Linked DNA regions of Homo sapiens. The protein of the gene in region 1 interacts with the protein of each later gene in a pairwise test. Each region holds a gene or a part of one and is shown on either strand. Other genes may lie near its edges.

What was found. The genes of interacting proteins can lie anywhere in the genome.
Region 2: the proteins of AP3M1 (region 1) and SPAG16 interact in binary tests that used the Homo sapiens proteins (3 or more experiments, as listed by UniProt).

What each region holds. Positions count from the first base shown.
Region 1 is NC_000010.11:74,123,329-74,126,828, forward strand, and holds part of AP3M1 (AP-3 complex subunit mu-1), read right to left. Parts: intron 3,028-3,500; coding exon 2,820-3,027; coding exon of another isoform or gene 2,798-2,819; intron 1,197-2,797; coding exon 1,052-1,196; intron 583-1,051; coding exon 482-582; 3' UTR 1-481. UniProt on the Homo sapiens protein: Part of the AP-3 complex, an adaptor-related complex which is not clathrin-associated. The complex is associated with the Golgi region as well as more peripheral structures.
Region 2 is NC_000002.12:213,924,464-213,927,963, reverse strand, and holds part of SPAG16 (sperm-associated antigen 16 protein), read right to left. Parts: intron 1-3,500. UniProt on the Homo sapiens protein: Necessary for sperm flagellar function. Plays a role in motile ciliogenesis. May help to recruit STK36 to the cilium or apical surface of the cell to initiate subsequent steps of construction of the central pair apparatus of motile cilia.

The DNA.
Region 1 (3,500 bases):
AAGAGGCAGTTTTCTGTAAACTTCTGGGGGTGGGGGGAATTTCCTCTCGGGACAGATACTGGTTTGGGATGGCTAAGATCAGAAGGTGTGATATTTGGCTGCACCTGACACATCACAGATTTAAGATAGCTTCTGCTGGATGAGACCAGTTAACTCTTTTAGGAGAGAGGTTATCACTACAGCTTTCTGCCTTTACTGTTACAATGTGCAGCCGCCAGATGGTATCCTCCTATGGAAAAAAATCACCTCCAAAATCTTCCTAAGTGAAAAGATACAAAATAAGCTAAGTCACTAAAAGGTTTCCTTAGCTTAAAGCTCCTTAAGAATCCTACATTGATAACTAAGTAACTTTGTTAGCGGTGTGTAGCTAGACACAAATGCTTTAACTAGAATATGTATTCCCACTCACTTGGTACCTAATAGTGATACATCGTAATGACACTTGGAAAACAAACTGGTCCTGAGGAATTTTGGCCTCTTCTCATGTCCTCACTTGGAACTTTCCAGCTTTCGTGACGTATTTGACTCCTTTAAATGGCTTATATTTCTCCCCATACATGTCCAAACGGTTTACTTTTAAGCCTGTATCAAAAAGAATGAAAAAGAATAAATTATCATCATCCCAACCAATATAATGTTAGCAATGAGCGCTATATGGTAAATCTGACATTAACCAGTGTCCCTTCCACCATTTGGAAGAAATGTCTCTTCTATCATTTACAAATTATTGCACTTTGATGGTATGGTTTTGGTTAAGATTCCCACACAGGCAGGGAATGTCTGTGAAGTATAATTCTACTTTCTGTGAATATGAATAACTCTCTTTTTGGTGCTTAAATGAGGGCGGAGGTGAGGGGAAGCTGTTTGAAATAAGGTGCTCTGAAAAATCATTTGGTCGGTGCCTGTGAGACTGCCCCACCAAGCACAGTATAAAAGGCAAATGGGCTACTGCTCTTTCTAGAGAAGGAAACTTTTGTTACTCTTCTAAATGCCTAATAAATGAGCTTGCAAAACTCAATTACCCTTAACTACAAGTCAACCTTATCCTTACCTGAAATAGCAAGCTGCTGGATCTTAAACTGTATGTTGAGGCTCGGATTCTCTTCTGGTTTGGGGGCTCCAGACTGTAAATTTACCAGTCCTTTAAGACTTGGGAGCTTTTGTGGAGTAATTTTTCCCACATCCCATGTTAGTACCTTAAAAAGACAAAAAATGAAAAACAAATAGAACCATTTATTAAAGACAAACCCTCAAAAACAAAGTTCAAAGATATCATAAACTTCTGTACAAACTGAAGTGCAGTCTCTTGAAAACAAGAGATCTGGCATCTACAGTGAGTTTACCTCTGATTAATTCTGTGACTTTGAATGGGGAGTGAGAGCAGAGAATCTACATTTGTTGAGCATTTTCTTTTGTATTAGCACCGTGCTTAGCATTATTCATATGTTGTCTCATTGAGGGCTGTGAAGTAGCTTTTGTCTTCTATTTACAAATGAGGAAATTAAAGCTCAGAGGACATTAAGGCTCAGAGATCAAATGACTCGCTCAAGGTCACATAGTTAGTCAGAGGTAAGGCTGGGATTTGAACCTAAGGCCCTCTGATTTCAAATGTTCTCCATCATAACCATCTTCACTTTTCTCTGGGCCTGTTTCTTTTTCTTTTTTTTTTGAGACAGAGTTTCACTCTTGTTGCCTAGGATGGAGTGCAATGGTGCAATCTTGGCTCACCACAAACTCTGCCTCCCAGGTTCAAGCGATGCTCCTGCCTCAGCCTCCCAAGCAGCTGGGATACAGGCATGCGCCACCATGCCCAGCTAATTTTGTAGTTTTAGTAGAGATGGGGTTTCTCCATGTTGGTCAGGCTGGTCTCGAACTCCTGACCTCAGGTGATCCACCCACCTCGGCCTCCCAAAGTGCTGGGATTACAGGCGTAAGCCACTGCGCCCAGCCTCTGTTTATTTTTCTGTAAAATAATTAGATTGACTTAAGATGGTGTTTTTAAAACTTTTAGCTGTGAAACCCATTGTTCAAATGAAATCTTCGGTGTGAAGGCTCAACAGCAGATGAGAAAGAAAGCAAAGCTGTCATAGTTGAAGCTGTGGTAAAGGGCCAGGAATCTGAAGCTCCCTTTCTCAGCCCTGTGTGGTCTCCAGGAGGAGGTTCTTTGAATCCTTACAACTGTATTAAATAATCTTTAACATTCTATGATGTTATTCAAAAAACATGTCTTTTCATTTATCAGGTAGCTCAATGACTCTGCTATTGAAAACAATCATATTTACCAGCTAATCAGGAAGCTGAGAGAAAATCATCTGCTACAGTTTCTCTGAAAACCCTCTGTTACACAAAAATTTAAGTAGAGTGAGGAAGCAACTTTCCTAGCCCTGTGAAAGAGTATGAAATAATGCTTTTAAATTATAAAGGAAGAAAAAGGTCTTAGTGATCAATTTATATAGAAAACTTAGTAATTCATAGACCATCATAATATCTTCTTCAATCTACATAATGTTTTCTCTTTTTAAAAAAGCTTTTACTTCTTTCTTATTAGATAGCAGAGTCAGGCTCTGGATTAATAATGGATGAGTGAAGGCACACTCTGAAAAAGGACAGAATGACACATTTTTCTGTTCATCTACTCAGTAGCAGCTGCAGGATTCCTTCTGCAGCCAGTGGCAGAAGCACAGCACAGTATGCTCTCTAGGTTTTGATACGAACTTTAGTTTTAAACAAGGTGCCAAACCTTTCCCTCCATTCCTCCCCACAAATCACAAAATAGATTGCAGAAACACTTGCTCACTCTTGATTTGAAGTGGCTGTACCTTGGTGACTGGATCAAATGTATAGCTGCCTTGTGTGGGTGTCAGGTTCATGTTCAGCACAACTTTTGGCATGTGAACTGTCACTGTAATTCCTTCAATAGTTTTCCCCATATTCTGCTTTGGTCCAATTGTTATATCAAATCTGCCGCAAGAACTGTTCTCCTTAAAGCTGATACTATGTTTCACATACACTGGTATTGCCACTAGACTAAAAAGAGAAACAGAGAAAGATACAAAAGCACAAACACAATTAATGGTGTGGGGAGAGCTCCAGAGGTATCCTGAAAACCTCTGTCCAGAGTATCCTACCCTGCCTTTAACTCCACAATAAGGTACTACAGAGTTGGCTCTCTGTAGCCACAGTTCTGCATCCTTGAATTTGACCAGCTGAGGATTGAAAATATTATTTCACAAAATTGGCCAGGCGTGGTGGCTCATGCCTGTAATCCCAGCACTTTGGGAGGCCGAGACCAGGGTTGGGAGGGGATCACCTGAGGTCAGGAGTTTGAGACCAGCCTGGCCAACATGATGAAACCTCGTCTCTACAAAAATTAGCTAGGGCTGGGCGCGGTGGCTCACACCTGTAATCTCAGTACTTTGGGAGGCTGAGGTGAGGAGTTCAAGACCAGCCTGGCCAACATGGTGAAACCTCGTCTCTACTAAAAATACAAAAATTAGCTG
Region 2 (3,500 bases), on another chromosome or scaffold:
AGAATTTTAGTTTTTAATATTAAAGATTGAACAATACACTTATCCAAAAACATGCATGTAAAAAAATTTAAAAATTATTTAAGCATGCTTCTTTCTCAAATCTATCTTTCCAATGGGTATCATGTTATTATGGACCAAAATCTTAGCATAGGATAAAAATTATTGTGGTATGTTTCTGCCTGTGGCTGAAAAACCCTCTCATATAAGTTTTATATGCTTATTTTGTGTTTTAAACCATGTGCCAGGCAAAAAAAACAAATCACACTGGAATAATTACAACTAGAATGAAGCAGTATTATTTCTTTGTGAGTGCTGTAACTGATATTTAGTCAACAATAAATATAAACAATATTCCCATAAGTTTTTAATATATAGAGTCAGAGCTCATATACTAAATCCAAAATATATCAAATATAAATTTCTGAACATTCTTTTGAAATGGTTTTGCCTTTCAAAAACATGGCCTGAAATATGGAAAACTGTATAACTTTGGTTCATGAAAAAATAAAGGCCATTTCTGAGGGCTGAGAGAAATCAAGAGAGAGAAAAAGAATGGTACACTAAAATCAAAAAAGTGTGTTTTAAGAGATGCAAAAGATCAGAGTTTCCCTGGGCTCCACACAAATAGAAGGAACCAAAGCTCTCAAAAAGAGCACAAGTGAATGTTATGGACTGACTGACTGTGCCACTCCTTTCCCAGATCCGTACATTGATGCCCTAATTCCAATGTGGCAGTATTCGGAGGTAGGGCCTCTGAGAAATAACTAGGTTTAGACAAGGTCATGAGCACGGGAACCCTGTAATACGATTAGTGCCTTTATAATCAGAGAAAGAGACTGGAGTTAACTCGCTCCCTGCATTGTGAGGACACAGCAAGAAGGCAGCCATTTACAAGGCAAGAAGGGGGCCCTCACCAGAACCTGATCAGGCTGGCACTCTGGTCTTAGACTTCTAGGCTCCAGGAGTGTGAGAAATTAATTTCTGTTATTTGAGCTACCCAGTCTCTGTTATTTTGTTATGGCAGACTGAGCTGACTAATAATGTAGATCCACGCTGTTGGTATACAGCCCAAGTTATTAGAAATTAGCTACTCAAAATTCTGCAAATAAAATTCAACCAAGTATGAGCTTACAAAATTATTCTCAAACACATAATGGGAAATAAGAAGCCATGACTGAGGATGAGCTAATAAAATTAACAAATACCCTGAAGGACACTAGTTGTTATAATTAAAGGGTACAAAATATAACTATAAGTAAAGTATATAAGGAAATAACAGCTACAATAAAAAGATCAAACGACGTAAGGTTATAACATGAATCTGCAAATCTGAAAAAAATATATATTTAGAAATTTTAAAAATAAAATTATTGAAATTAAGAAATCAATGGATGGGTTAAATAGCATATGAGAAACAGCAAAATTCAGAGTAAATGAATTGGGAAATAAATCCGGAAAAAAAATGAAAAACATGATATGTTCTCACTCACAGGTGGGAGTTAAGCTACGAGGCTGCAAAGGCATAAGAATGATACAATGGACTTTGGGGACTTGGAGGAAAGGGTGGAATGGAAGTGGGGCGAGGGGTAAAAGACTACAGATTGGGTAAAGTGCATACTGCTTGGGTGATGGGTGCACCAAAATCTCAGAAATCACCACTAAAGAACTTACTCATGTAACCAAACACCACCTGTTCCGCAAAAACCTATGGAAATAAAAAATAAAAATAAATAAAGTACATATTTGAAAAAATTATCCCAACTATAGACAGATGAGGAACTGAACACAGTATAGGTGGTTAAAATTATAAAGGATACAATAAAAAAGTATATTTTCCTAATCAAAATTCCAGAAGAGAATGGAAATAAAAGATAGATGTAACATTCAAAGAATTAAGGGTTGAGAATGTACAGAAACTAGAAAATTTAAGACCTAGAACCACATGTTTGGAAAGAAAAATGTATACCAAACAGGATAAACAGTGGTGTCAATAAAAAGAAATTTTTACTTAGATGCATTTTAGTGAATTGCTGAGCAGCATTGGCAATAATAAGAATTATAAGAAAAAAAGGAGGGAAAAAAGAAAAATAAGGTTATTTATTTATATAGTGATAAATATGTGTTAGAAACACTAATAAGCTCTTTATATATATTTGATCTTCACTATGACTCATAAGATGACTACATTATCTCTAAAACACTTAAACAACATCACAGAGAAAATAAGTCACAGGGGTGAAATTTCTTCAAAGAGCTAATAGAAAATAATGTTACTCTGGAATTATCAAAAATCTCTCTCAAAACAAGAACAAGGCTGGGCATAGAGGCCCATGTCTGTAATTCCAGAACCTTCGGAGGCCAAGGCAGACAGATTACTTGAGGTCAGGAGTTCGAGACCAGCCTGGCCAACATGGTGAAACCATATCCCTACTAAAAATACAAAAATTAGCCGGATAGGGTAGTGGACACATGTAGCCCCAGCTACTTGGAAGGCTGAGGCAGGAGAATTGCCTGAACCCAGGAGGCAGAGGTTGCAGTGAGCCAAGATTGTGACACTGCACTCCAGCCTAGGCAACACAGCAAGACTCCACCTCAAAAAAAAAAAAAAGGAAGAAAAGAAACAAGAACAAGTATTAATGTTCCAACTAAACAAAGCAGTCCTCTCCTACAGAAATTACTAAGGATATATTTTAGGGACAGAAGATCTGAAAGGGAAGAAATAGTGAGCAAACAATTTGGTAAACATGTAAGTATATAGAAATATTTGTGTAGATAAATAAAATGCTTGCAAAAATAAAACAAAAATGCTTGTAAAAATAAAAAAAAACAATAATGATATAGTATTAATAAAGTTCATGTGCTATTAAGAAGAGAAGTAAAACCTTGATCAATTTAGGCTTTACTAAATTCAGTCAGCATGGTAAAATGTTAAGAGTGAGCACTATAAGAATAGTAATAGAGCATATGACTTCCAAACCAGTATAAGAAAAAAAGAAATGGGTAAGAAAAACTTACAATTATAAACATCTAATATATCTAAAAGAAAATAGGAAAGGAGGAAAAAAGCACTAGAATAAATGATACAAATAGAAAATGAATTTTAAAAATAAGTTTTTAGATAGAAATACAAACATATGAACAAATCCAACAAACACAAATAGACTAAAGTGGAAGCTAAAAGACATAAAAGACAAAGATTTTTCAGTTTGGCTAAAAAGAAACAAATTCAGCTATATGATTTTTACACGAGGCACACTAAACTTCTAAGGAGATACAAAGATTGAGAGTAAACAAAGCAAAGCAAAGCAAAGCAAAATGAAAAAGTACCAAAAAAAGTTACCTAGGCCAAAGGAAATGAAAATAAAGATGAGGGATAGGGCCAAGATGGCAGACGAGAAGCAGCTTGTATGTGCTGCTCTCACAGAGAGGAACTAAAAGGCTAGTCAACACTGACCCTGCAGGCCAATCATCTGAGAAACCATGCTGGGATCCATGAAGGC